Homo sapiens: one gene and its partners. The protein of the gene in region 4 interacts with the protein of the main gene of each other region in a pairwise test. Each region holds a gene or a part of one and is shown on either strand. Other genes may lie near its edges.

What was found. Proteins that work in one complex are often made in the same cells at the same time.
Region 1: the proteins of SLC71A2 (region 4) and DEFB127 interact in binary tests that used the Homo sapiens proteins (3 or more experiments, as listed by UniProt).
Region 2: the proteins of SLC71A2 (region 4) and CYBC1 interact in binary tests that used the Homo sapiens proteins (3 or more experiments, as listed by UniProt).
Region 3: the proteins of SLC71A2 (region 4) and GIMAP1 interact in binary tests that used the Homo sapiens proteins (3 or more experiments, as listed by UniProt).

Annotation. Positions count from the first base shown.
Region 1 is NC_000020.11:156,179-159,663, reverse strand, and holds DEFB127 (beta-defensin 127 preproprotein), read right to left. Parts: upstream 2,211-3,485; 5' UTR 2,120-2,210; coding exon 2,071-2,119; intron 891-2,070; coding exon 640-890; 3' UTR 501-639; downstream 1-500. UniProt on the Homo sapiens protein: Has antibacterial activity.
Region 2 is NC_000017.11:82,444,920-82,447,752, forward strand, and holds part of CYBC1 (cytochrome b-245 chaperone 1), read right to left. Parts: intron 2,703-2,833; coding exon 2,661-2,702; intron 1,778-2,660; coding exon 1,704-1,777; intron 1,042-1,703; coding exon 945-1,041; intron 1-944. UniProt on the Homo sapiens protein: Functions as a chaperone necessary for a stable expression of the CYBA and CYBB subunits of the cytochrome b-245 heterodimer. Controls the phagocyte respiratory burst and is essential for innate immunity.
Region 3 is NC_000007.14:150,719,613-150,722,198, forward strand, and holds part of GIMAP1 (GTPase IMAP family member 1), read left to right. Parts: intron 1-435; coding exon 436-1,313; 3' UTR 1,314-2,586. Other genes in the region: GIMAP1-GIMAP5 protein, read left to right, coding at 436-794. UniProt on the Homo sapiens protein: May regulate lymphocyte survival. Required for normal levels of mature T-lymphocytes and mature B-cells.
Region 4 is NC_000009.12:94,454,569-94,458,055, reverse strand, and holds part of SLC71A2 (hippocampus abundant transcript-like protein 1), read right to left. Parts: intron 1,817-3,487; coding exon 1,719-1,816; intron 1-1,718.

The DNA.
Region 1 (3,485 bases), on a different chromosome or scaffold from region 4:
AACAGTGGAATCTTATTTATCTCCGTCTTCCCAGTTCACTGCTGGTACACAGGAGCTTAGGAAATCAGACTTCCCCCATAGTTCAACTTTGAGTGCTCTGTTCTTCATCCAAACAAAGTGCATGTATAGTGTCTTGAAATGTTCTGTCTTTTCCAATTTCCTCCCATTCTGTTCACTCAAATTGCCTTCCCTACCAAACCTCATCCATGGAAATCCTACTTATTTACTGCTTTACTATTTACTTATTTACTACAAGACACTGCTTTATTCCTAAACTTACTCATGAATTTCCCCTGAATATTTGCTTCACCTTTCCCTCTCCTAAATTACATGTCAGTGTTTCTGAGTTTCTTATTCCAGACTTCCACACTATAGGACTTTTTTTTTTTAGTGTACTTGTCATATCCCCTTTTCAAGGAGAGGTTCTGAGTTCTTATCAATTCATTACCTAGTATATAATGAGTGTTCAACCCCTGGTTAAAGAACAAAATGAGACAGAAAACTGGCAATGCACTTTATTAGAATATGCTCGAAGGTCATTTTAAGGATCAAGAAACCAAAAGGAAGAAGATGTATATCTCATCACCTTAGTTTATTAGACTAGGTTGAGAAGCAAGTGAAAACGAAATTGTATTTGATTTATGTAGACTGTGTCTTCAGGCTTGGGAAATTTTCTATTATTGTAACATAGTCTTGAAGAGTCAGTGCAAGTGTTGCTGGCTTTGGACGAGGTGGCTTTGTAATTTTTTTACATGCTTCCAGTTCCTTGATATTGAGGCAACAGTATCTCCCATTTTCACATAGTGCCTCAGGCACTTCATTTACTCTGCAGATTTTCCTGCAATGTCCTTGTACATAGTTATTCCAGCACTTCTTAAGTTGTTCGGTTACTATACACAGAAAGGAGCAATAGAACAATATCAGTGTTTGAGACTGAAGGCACGTTGGTTTTGGGGAAGACAGAGGAGGCTTGTAGGAATTAGGGGTATGGGGTATCCACAAGGCAGACCCTCATATATTCTGAAGAGGATTTTCCGACAAGGTCAACCTCAGTGTTTGTATTTAACTGGATCACTTATATTTAGGTCCTGTGAGGTTTTAGGCCTCCCTTAACATCTGATAGACTCTGCCAAGAACATAAGATCTTATCTGAGAAAATAAAGGAGCTGAACCCTTGATTCTAGGCTATGGAACTATGCTCTACATAGGAACCTCAGCAAATCTGCCTGCATCCTGAATGCTCCCAGAGCACTACCTTCTACTGCACCTCCTCTGATGCCCAGAGAACAATGTATTGTTACTATGTGTTTATGTCTGAATCAAACTGTTCTCCTGAGTTCAAACCCACTATCAGGGTCAAGAATGACTTTCATGTTATCCAGTAAGGTAGTAGTCTATTGGGTCTTAGGAATGTAGAGGGTCAGGAATAGGCCATTACTATTCTTATAATAAGGGACACATGTAAGAAATCTGGTTTTGAAAGAGGAAAGGAAACTCTAATTTTTGAGTTCTCAGTATGTGCCAAGCTTCACATAGGTTATATCATTTAATAAAACCCCTGTTAACCAGGTGTCATTATCTCCATAGATGAGGAAACTGAGGCTCCTAGAGTCTTCACTACTTAAAGTTGACAAACTAGTAGATATTGAAGGCATGTTTCTTAAACCTAACTCCAAAATTTGCTTCTTCCTCTATTCATGCACACACACACACACACACACACACACACACATATATATATTTGAGTAAAAGGAAATATAGCTGAGCATCAGAGTAAAAACCATATCCAAAGACATAAAGGTATCCCTAGATATTGGCATCATTCCTTTCTATAACAACACATCTTTCCCAGAAGAAATTATGACCTCTTTTTAGCTCAGTGAGTACTCCTCTTTAAGGATAGTAACATGGAATAAGGCTCCAGAAAGAGGAAATTTCTGATGATGTTGGATAAACTTTAGCCATCTTTGGGGGCTCTATTTCCCTTTAGTGTGGATTATGAAGTTCCCTTTGGCTCCTGAAAATGCTCCATCCCACTGTTGATTTGAGTGAGCTTCTGGTTTGGTTTACCTGTGGGTTTCTGGAACAGCAGAATTGCAATGATCATGAAGAGCCCCATGGCCAGGCTTTCCAGAAGAGGTGCAGCCAAAGCTTTTGGTCCAGTGAACTGCACACTATGCTACCTTCCTCAGAGACTTAGATTCTTATGCACTGAACCAGAACAGATGGGATGATATGAAGTGTGTCCTTAAGCTTCTGAACTGTGAGCTTTGCATCATGCAGGCAGACACAGGAAATTTCAGGCCACCCACTTTACCCCCACATGGAATAGAGATACAGCATGTTCCATCCCATCGCACCAAATGCCGCTGTGTAGGCTGTAGACTGCTGGGAAGAATCTGTGATTTTCCTGCTTTGACTCTCTGCGCAGCCGGACCAAGATCGAAATGTACTCACCTCCAAGAATGAATGTGGCAGTATAAACCAGGACATAAATCTGAAACTCTAACAATAAGAATTTCTAGTAGGTTTCTTGCACATTTCGAAAGAAGGTATGATGTAGTTGGGTCTGATCTGAGGTCACCTGATTTTTTATAAAAGCACCAAGAACATACACTGGGGAAAGGATACCCTCTTCAATAAATCATGCTGGAGAAACTGGATTTCCATGTGCAGAAGAATATATATTATGTATATATATATGTACACACATATATACATATATATGCACACAATGGAATACTATACATACATAACACACAATGGAATATATATATATATATATACACACACACACACAATGGAATACTATTCACCCATAAAAATAATGAAATTCTGTCCTTTGCAACAACATGGATAGCCTGGAGGACATTATGTTATGTGAAATGTCAGGCACAGAAAGATTACCACATGTTCCTATTTATATATGGGAGCTAAAAAAGTTGAGCACATGGAAGTAGAGAGTAGTGTTGCAGATATTAATATTAGAGGCTGGTAATGATTAGGGAGAGGGGAGGATGGAGAGAGATTGGCTAATGGATGCAAAATTATAGATAGGAGGAATGACTTCTGGTGTTGTAGCACTGTAAGGTGAATATGGTTAACTACAATTTATTGTATACTTTTAAAAGGCTAGAAGAGAGGATTTTGAATGTTCCCAATACAAATGATAAATGTTTGAGGTGACGGATATGCTAATTACCCTGGTTTGATCATTACACATTATATGCATGTATTGAAATATCACTTTGTATCCTATAAATAAGTACAATTATGTGTCAACTAAAAATAAAAGGAAAAATGGCTAAAATGGCCAATGTTATGTCATATATTTTACCACAATTAGAAGAAAAAGATGCATGAGGGTATTTTTTTTCTACCAGTTGTACCTTGTCTTTGAAAATATTAAAATGTTGCCACAAGGAATCGATGTTTACCTAGATCATTCTTTGATCATTGATTGCAGTTTTCAAAAAATTTCAACC
Region 2 (2,833 bases), on a different chromosome or scaffold from region 4:
TGGCTGCTGAGCCAGGGCCACCCTGCAGTTTCCCGTGGCAACTCAGGGCAGCCACCTCTTCGGGTACTGGGGCGGTCCCAATGGCTGTCAGAAAACGGCACAGCTGCCTCCCACAGCCCAGGCCAGCCCTGCAACTGCTCTCCCCAAAGCCACAGGTGACCTGGGGCCAATGCCCTGGCCAGGTCCCTGCAGGGATCCAGGAAGCAGCCTGTCAGAAGTGCAGCATTGCGGCACTAAACCCAAGACTGCCCAGCAACTCTGGTCGCCAGAATCTGTCCCCTCTGGGGCTATGCATGGGCGGCCGGACCCCGGGGCCTCTGTCTGTCTGTGCGGCAGCATCTACAGGAAACTGGTACTGACCACAGCTGGGCCAGTGCCCAGGCTCAAGGGTGGGGAGTTCCTCGGACCATCCAGCCCCTACTGCAGGCCCAGTAGAACCCACAGGAAAGCTGGAGCAGCGCCAAGGCCCGCAAGAAGCCAGGTGGCCCCACTCCAGAACGCCCACGGGCTGCCATGGCTCTCCCTGCCCCGTCCTGTGACCTGCCGCTGGGGCCAGACTGCACCTGCGGACAAGTGGCTGCCAGGCAGACGGGAGAATGCAGCTAAACAGAGGCTGCCCGAGCCCGGGTGGGCCAGACCCCTGCTCCTCAGACCCCTGCTCTGCCAGACCCCTGCTCCTCAGACCCCTGCTCCTCCCACTCTCCCCAGGGGCCAAACCTCTAAAGAACCCAGGAGGCTCTAGGACCCTGCTGAGCAGGTGAGCAGGTGGGGCGTATCCGTGGGATCCTGCTTCCAGCGGGCAGGACACAACCCTGGTCACCAAGCAGGTGAGCTTGGACCAAAGGCACTTCCAGGCCCCCCTCTAGGCCCCGTGAGTCACCCAGACGCCCAAGTGCGCCGCCTCTGTGGCCGTGTCCCATGTCCCCACGCTCCCCACGACTCACCCTGGTCGTGGCCAGCTCTGAAAAGAGTCAGCAGCTTCTTGTAGAGGCTGAACGTCTTCAAAACAACCTTCCCTGTGCTCTTGTCGAAGATGGCTTCCTGGAAACCGACATGCACTGACCACCATGAACCTCCAGGAACGGGGGCCCCGTGGCCGCTGGGGCCTCACCCCCACCCTCACCAGGGTGGACACTCAAGAAGGGGGGCTGGGGACCCTCCCAGTCAGAACCCAAACCCCTGAAGCCACAGGTGCTGCTCTGTCAGAGCCGGATATCGGCAGCCAACCCGACTCCTGTTGGGAAATGGAGAGGTGGGCAGGTGCAGCAGGCGCTTGCTCCACCCTGCAGGCAAAACAAGTGCAGGGAGGCAGTGGAACCAGCAAACGAGGGCATGGAGGTCAGAGGGCAGCACTGGGCCAGGCTGAAAGGACTCATGAGGGGCTCCGAGGTGGGAGGGCCGGCCACGGGGAAAGCTGACTCGCATCCCATTGTGGCAACTCTGGGAAGAAAGCACTTTGGTGAAGATAGTCATGGAGAGCTTCTAAGAGAAAAATGCCTTCGGGGAATTCCTTGGCCAAGAACGGTCCCAGATGAGTGCAGGGGCCATGTCCTGATGAACGGAGACCTCCAAGCAGGGACCAACGCTTCAGGACGGGGAGGCGCTAGGCCACCCAGGGCCCTTCCTCCTCCTTTCATTCCCATTGCAAAAAACCCAGGAGCTGAACAGCCCTGGACTCTGTCCCGCACCCGAGCCGGCCTTACCTCCCAGTCCTCCAAGTTCTGCACAGCCACAAACAGGCAGCCTGTGACGTAGAAGAGCTTCCAGCCCAGGCTATCTGGAGATGGGCATAGGGCGCCAGCCTGTGAGCTCCAGGGACATGCCCACGGGAGGCCCCGCCTAGCACAGCCTCCCCCAGACGCTGGCCAGAGCCCACGCTTGCAAGGACCCCCTGGGCAGCTTCCTGTGCTGCTGACCCTGCCCTGGCCACTCAGGACCCACACGCGGCACACCCCACCCAGCTCTGACCCCCAGAGTCCACGTGAGAGAGGCAGGTGGGGCGCACAGGGCCTCTGCCCGTCTGGGCAGGCCCAGTGATTGTGGCAGGGTGGGAAGTACACCTCATCCCACAGCTGGATCTTAGATCCTCAAGAGCATCTCTCCGGGAATATTTGATGACCCAAAAACACAGAAGACTTAAGAAGTGAAATGTGGCCGGGCGCAGTGGCTCACGCCTGTAATCCCAGCACTTTGGGAGGCCGAGGCGGGCGGATCACGAGGTCAGGAGATCGAGACCATCCCGGCTAAAACGGTGAAACCCCGTCTCTACTAAAAATACAAAAAATTAGCCGGGCGTAGTGGCGGGCGCCTGTAGTCCCAGCTACTTGGGAGGCTGAGGCAGGAGAATGGCGTGAACCCGGGAGGCGGAGCTTGCAGTGAGCCGAGATCCCGCCACTGCACTCCAGCCTGGGTGACAGAGCGAGACTCCGTCTCAAAAAAAAAAAAAAAAGAAGTGAAATGTGGGCTGAGCGCTGGGCAGGATGGGCGTGCGGAAGAACAGCAGCGCATGGAGGGCGCGGTGCCCGCCAGCAATCAAGGGGCAGAGGTGCCGATCCTAAAGGCCGCCCCATGGACAGTCACAAATGACAGTTTTTCCTTCTTTTCTCTGTTTTCCAAACAGCTGAGACAGTCATGGGGGGGTGGGGCGGGGGGTGCTTTACCTCCGCTGTAGTAGGCAGCAGCCAGGCCAATCGACAAGATTCCTATGAAGAGAAAGTGACTGCCTGCCTATTGATCCCGGTAAGACCCCACCTCCCTGGTGCAGCGGGACCAGGAGCCACAGCCCCTGATGAGCAGGCCCTTCCCACTGTAGGAACAGCTGTGGTCAGGGGTT
Region 3 (2,586 bases), on a different chromosome or scaffold from region 4:
TTCCCCAAGGTTACACAACCAGCACGTGGTGGGGCTGTGATTCAAACCAGGGTATCTGGGACTCCACACAGCTCTTCACTACCAGGCAGTATTGCCCCCACTGCCTGTCTCTGGGGATGGTCTCTGGGAGAATATTTCAGAGTCCATCGAAATTTTCAAATATGAAATAAATATGTCTGCATGTGTGTGGATGACCAGAAATGTCAGATGAACTATTGGGCTGGACTGATAAAGAAGCATTTCTATGATAATCAACTGTAGTTGGAGCATCTACTGGTGCAGGCAGACAACCCAAATACAAAAGGAAAAGGTGGAAATGAACGCCCAGGCGTTCAAATCTCTATTCTTAACCACTTATGCTAAAGGCAAGAAGATTCCAGTTCCCAAGGGGAAGTTGGTTAAACTTAAGTAAGATTATAACACTTGGTCTCACAGGTTTAGAAGAGAACGCTCAGTCCCGGCAGGAGTCCACGCGGAGGCTCATCCTTGTTGGGAGAACAGGGGCCGGGAAGAGCGCCACTGGGAACAGCATCCTGGGCCAGAGACGGTTCTTCTCCAGGCTGGGGGCCACGTCTGTGACCAGGGCCTGCACCACGGGCAGCCGCAGGTGGGACAAGTGCCACGTGGAAGTCGTGGACACTCCGGACATTTTCAGCTCCCAAGTGTCCAAGACAGATCCTGGCTGTGAGGAGAGAGGTCACTGCTACCTGCTCTCGGCCCCCGGACCCCACGCGCTGCTCCTGGTGACCCAGTTGGGTCGGTTCACCGCCCAGGACCAGCAGGCGGTGAGGCAGGTGAGGGACATGTTCGGGGAGGACGTCCTAAAATGGATGGTCATCGTCTTCACCAGGAAGGAGGACCTGGCCGGGGGCTCCCTGCACGATTACGTGAGCAACACAGAGAACCGGGCCTTGCGCGAGCTGGTGGCCGAGTGCGGGGGCCGGGTCTGTGCCTTTGATAACCGGGCCACCGGCCGGGAGCAGGAAGCCCAGGTGGAGCAGCTGCTGGGGATGGTCGAGGGCTTGGTGCTGGAGCACAAGGGCGCCCATTACTCCAACGAGGTGTATGAGCTGGCGCAGGTGCTGCGCTGGGCAGGCCCTGAGGAGCGGCTCCGGCGGGTGGCGGAGCGCGTGGCAGCCAGGGTGCAGAGGAGGCCATGGGGCGCCTGGCTGTCGGCCCGGCTGTGGAAGTGGCTGAAGTCCCCCAGGAGCTGGAGGCTGGGCCTGGCCCTGCTGCTGGGGGGCGCGCTCCTGTTCTGGGTGCTGCTCCACAGGCGGTGGTCGGAGGCCGTTGCGGAGGTCGGGCCTGACTGACAGCGCAGGTCCTAAAACTGAAGGCAACTTGGTTAAGGGAGGCTGAATTCTTGGAGCTGAAGGGAAAACTTCATTCCAACGGAAGGAATCCTGTAGTTTCAGGCATAGTTTTAATGACACAGAAAACTTTGCTGCATCACCTTTGCAACTTTGCCAAAGCTCAGAGTTCACTTTTTAAGTTTTTAACTCATTTTAAATGATGTGTATGCAGAGTTTTAAAATAAATTCGTCTAACAATAACTTCCTTTGGTAGTTTTGGTAGTCTAATGTCAAGTAGCTTGTAGTGGGGACAAACGCATGGCACAGGGAAAACAAGTGCCATTATTTTCGAGCTTTTTAAAAAATTTAGACTGCCCCTCCTTGATAATTTTCTAGTTCTTATACATGGGTAGATAGGTTCCTTTGTGATCCTTGTAGACTTTTAGCATCAATAAAAGAAATGTGGGGGTTACACACGTGAATGTTACTTCTGAGACATCAGTTTATAGTACAATGATTTACTACCAAAAAGATGAATGTAACTGTACTGTTACAAAGTGGAAAATAACAGTTTCCACTTTTCTAGAACATATTATGGTTCATGGCATTCCAAAATGAAGTAAGGGCCGGGCGAGGTGGCTCACGCCTGTAATCCCAACACTTTGGGAGGTCGAGGCAGGTGGATCACCTGAGGTCAGGAGTTCGAGACCAGCCTGACCAACATGGCGAAACCCCATCTCTACTAAAAATACAAAAATTAGCCAGGCGTGATAGCACTCGCCTGTAATCCCAGCCATTCAGGAGGCTGAGGCGGGAGAATCACTTGATGCAGTGAGCCGAGATCGTGCCACTGCACTCCAGGCTGGGTGACAAAGCAAGAATCTGTCTCAAAAAAAAAAAAAGAAAAGAAAAGAAAAAGAAAAAGAGTAGGATATTGGGAAAATAACATATAATATCTTCTATATGGTTATTCATATTTTTATCACACACACACACACACACACACACACACACAGTCTGTATCTCGAGCTCCTCTCTGGTTATGGAGAAGAGGCAGAGCACCAGGTGCATAGGCTGAGACTGCAGACACCTGAGCATCCTATGCTGTGAGGCGAAAGCATCCGGTTTTTTCGGGATGGGCCTGTCCAGGAAGGTTCTCGAATGCCACGTGATTAGAAAATTTGCCGCTGACTGGTTGTGCGAATCAAACAATAGGATTTCCTTATTTCTATTTCTGAGCATAATGAGAACCCTTTAAGGGAACTCATTGTCTTTAAATCAGCCAGCCTCTAGT
Region 4 (3,487 bases):
TTCTGTCAACTGAGATTTCCCTGCTCTGGTCATTTACTGGTGCTTTCACAACAAAAACTTGCCCTTCACCTCTGGCAGCCCTGGTGTCAGGAATACAGACCAGTCCCCAGTAGGCAGACTTCATCTTCACAGGTGTATTCCAGCCTATCTCCCTAGAGACCTACACTGAAAAACCCAGAAGTGCCAAATTCCTAAATATCTCTGCTTTCTAACATAGCAAGTAAAAAGTTAGCTTGAACTGTATGAAATGAATGTTTCTGTAAATCAAAAATGGTAGTATATAATTCAGCCTAATACAATGTGTTCCAAAACTTTTATATGCTGACATTCAGAAACATGTATATTGACATGAATAAGTATAAAAAGTCAAAAGAAAATCCATGCCCCAAATGACAGGACGGTGTCTGTCAGATGCCAAGGCAGTGACAGTCCTCCACGGATGGGTCATCACATCTTCACTTCAGACACAGCACCTCCCTAAGGATGCAAACCAACTGAGTTACTGTAGCCAGGAGTGACATACAGAATGTGTGGTCTTCAAGGGACAATATTTAACAATGAATCTGAGTAAGATACCTAACTTCTGATATAGAAAAAAAAAATGCAATGAATAAACCATCCTTTCCAATATAGTTTTTTACTAAAACTTTTAAAAAAAAGGGCTCTTAGGCATTAAAAAATTTTTCTCCCTCTAAAATTGTCTACTTCTTCCTGAATACAATAAGGTGAGCCATTAGGAGATAGAGAAGGAAAGAGATTAAATCTAGCCATGGGAACTGCTTGAAAGGAAAGCAGTCCAGGCATGGGGGCTCACACCTGTAATCTCAGCACTTTGAGAGGCCGAGGCAGGCAGACTGAACCCAGGAGTTCGAGACCAGGCTGGGCAACATGGCGAAACCCCATCTCCACTAAAAATACAAAAAATTAGCTGGGCATGGTAGTGTGCGTCTCTAGTCCCTGGTACTTGGGAGGGTGACTGGGAGATCACTTGAGCCCAGGAGACGGAGGCTGCAGGGAGCCAAGATTGTACCACTACACTCCAGCCTGGGTGACAGTGAGACCCTGTAAGGGGTAGGAGGTGGGGGGTGGGGGGAGGAAGGGTGGGAAAAGAGGGAAGAAGGGATGGAGGGAGGACAAGACAGGACAGGAAGGGAAGCAGAGGCATGGGAAGGATGGGATATGGATCTAGATGGTAGAATGCTATTTTCCACATAGCAGTCTTAATTTTAATTTCATCTCTCACTCAACATCTATCAACAACCACACAGACTTTTTCTTACTACTCTCAAACTATTTTCTAAATTAAGCTCAAAGACTTTGAGTTATTCCAAATAATTAGTGAATAAAGTAATTAAGTAACTCGTGGTTAACTGGTTTTTCATTATTTAATAGACATCTGTTAAAATGTGATTATAGTCTGCTTAATTGTGACACTAAAGAAGAAAAGATGTATCAAAACTGAAAAGGGAAAATGAATAGTTCTATTTCTAATTGTTAGCAATCTGAACTGCTAAGTCTAGCTTTAAAAAATATAAGTGTAAGATCAAAGCAGAGAGGAAAATAGAATGTTCCTATCTGCCAAAGTAAATAGGTATGATAAAAGGGGCCATATGGCTGTCGGCTCCTGCTGTTGATGGGGAGAACTCAGAGCTGCTCCTGCTTCTAGCAGGGAGGTCTCCCGTTGAAGGAGAAAAACAAGTGGGGGGCAGTGACCTCACCTTGCTGATCTGACTCTGCATTCCGAGAGACGAGGGCACTGATTGCCGGAAACGTGATGCTGGACATGGCAGCCACGGTCCCTGCTGCCCACATCATCCTGCAATGACAGGACAGGCACAGTCAGGCAGCAGGTCAACCTCAAGGAGCTCACTATTCGGAATGCAATCAGTGGCAAAAGTACAAATGCCTTGTTTTCTCCTGTTACATTTTATTTATTTTTTCCTCTTTAAAAATGCATTTTTTTTTTAACCTACAAGGTTACATGTGACACTGGAGGAAACGAATGGCCTAGGATGGGGACAGAAGGGCCAGGAAACCTTTGTGTCTTGATTTTACTTCTTTTACAAACTTTTCTTCTCCCTGGTCTCCCTACTGCTATCTTTAGACATAAGCTCAATGAAGTTCGCAAGGAGATTTCTTTTGTTGCTATAAATACCACATTTTCTCCACTGACCTTTCATTTTTTCTTTGTACCTCTTGAAGGCTCACTTTCACACTGCCCTCGAGCTACAGCTTGCTACCCCTCAACAGAGAGAGCATGGTGTGCCCCCAACTGGAAAAACAGACCTGCCTTCCTCTTTAGACCTTTGTCCTCCTCTCAATAAGAGTCTTAACTATGTATCAGTATGAAGTGTGAGTGAGTAAAGTGAGGCCCCAACTTTGGGATGGTCATTACTGAAAAAGAAAAACCTCACATGATGACAAAGTCTTTTTAACACTACATGAATGTGACTAAATCAGCTACTGAACCAAAGTTCACAGGAGCAAAATCAAAAAGAACAAGGAGAATCAAGCAAGTTAATCTGGTAAAAAGTCACAGACGGCTAGGGACAGTGGCTCATGACTGTAATCCTAGCACTTTGGGAGGCCAAGGCAGGAGGATTGCTTGGGCCCAGGAGTTCAAGACCAGCATGGGCAACATGAGACCTTGTCTTTACAAAAAAAAAAAAAAAAAAAATCAGAATATTAGCCAGGCATGGTGTAAAAAAAAAATCAAAATATTAGCCAGGCGTGGTGGTGCGTGTACATACTCCCAGCTACTCAGGAAGCTGAGATGGGAGGATCGCTTGAGGCTGGCAGCAAGGCTGTAATAGTAAGCCATGATTGTGCCACTGTACTCTGGCCTAGGCAACACAGCCAGACCCTCTCTCTCTCAAAAAAAAAAAAAAAAAAAAAAAAAGGAAAGAGCAAGCGGATCAAATGAAATTCCAAAATTCAGAAGGGGCATATGTACTTACTCCCCAAACTAAACATGATAACTAAGGCAATTCTAGTTTCTCTAAATTATGTTGTCTGTTTGTGTCCAAAGTAAGGACCAGCTCTACCGTCTAAAATGGAGAAGGCATTTCTGCATCTGCCCACCAGGCACATGGAGAAACCTGCCACATTAACAAAACAAAACTCACGATTCCTTCTAATTTTTCTTATTCCACTGAGCTTATTTGGACCTTCCTTCCTGTTTATGGGGGAATCTAATATGGTAGTAATAACTGCGGCAGAATGCACATGGTTTTGGAAGAAATTTTAGTGTTCAAACTCAAATGATTTATCAAGGTTATGTTACTGATAGGTAATGATAAGTCATAGTGAAGCTTGCCATAATCAGTCATTTTTTTTGTATCTTCTTGTTTTGCTTTTGACTATATTCAATGTCTCTAAAAATTAGCATATGTGGCCAGGTGCGGTGGCTCACGCCTGTAATCCCAGCACTTTGGGAGGCCGAGGCAGGCAGATCACAAGGTCAGGAGTTTGAGACCAGCCTGGCCAA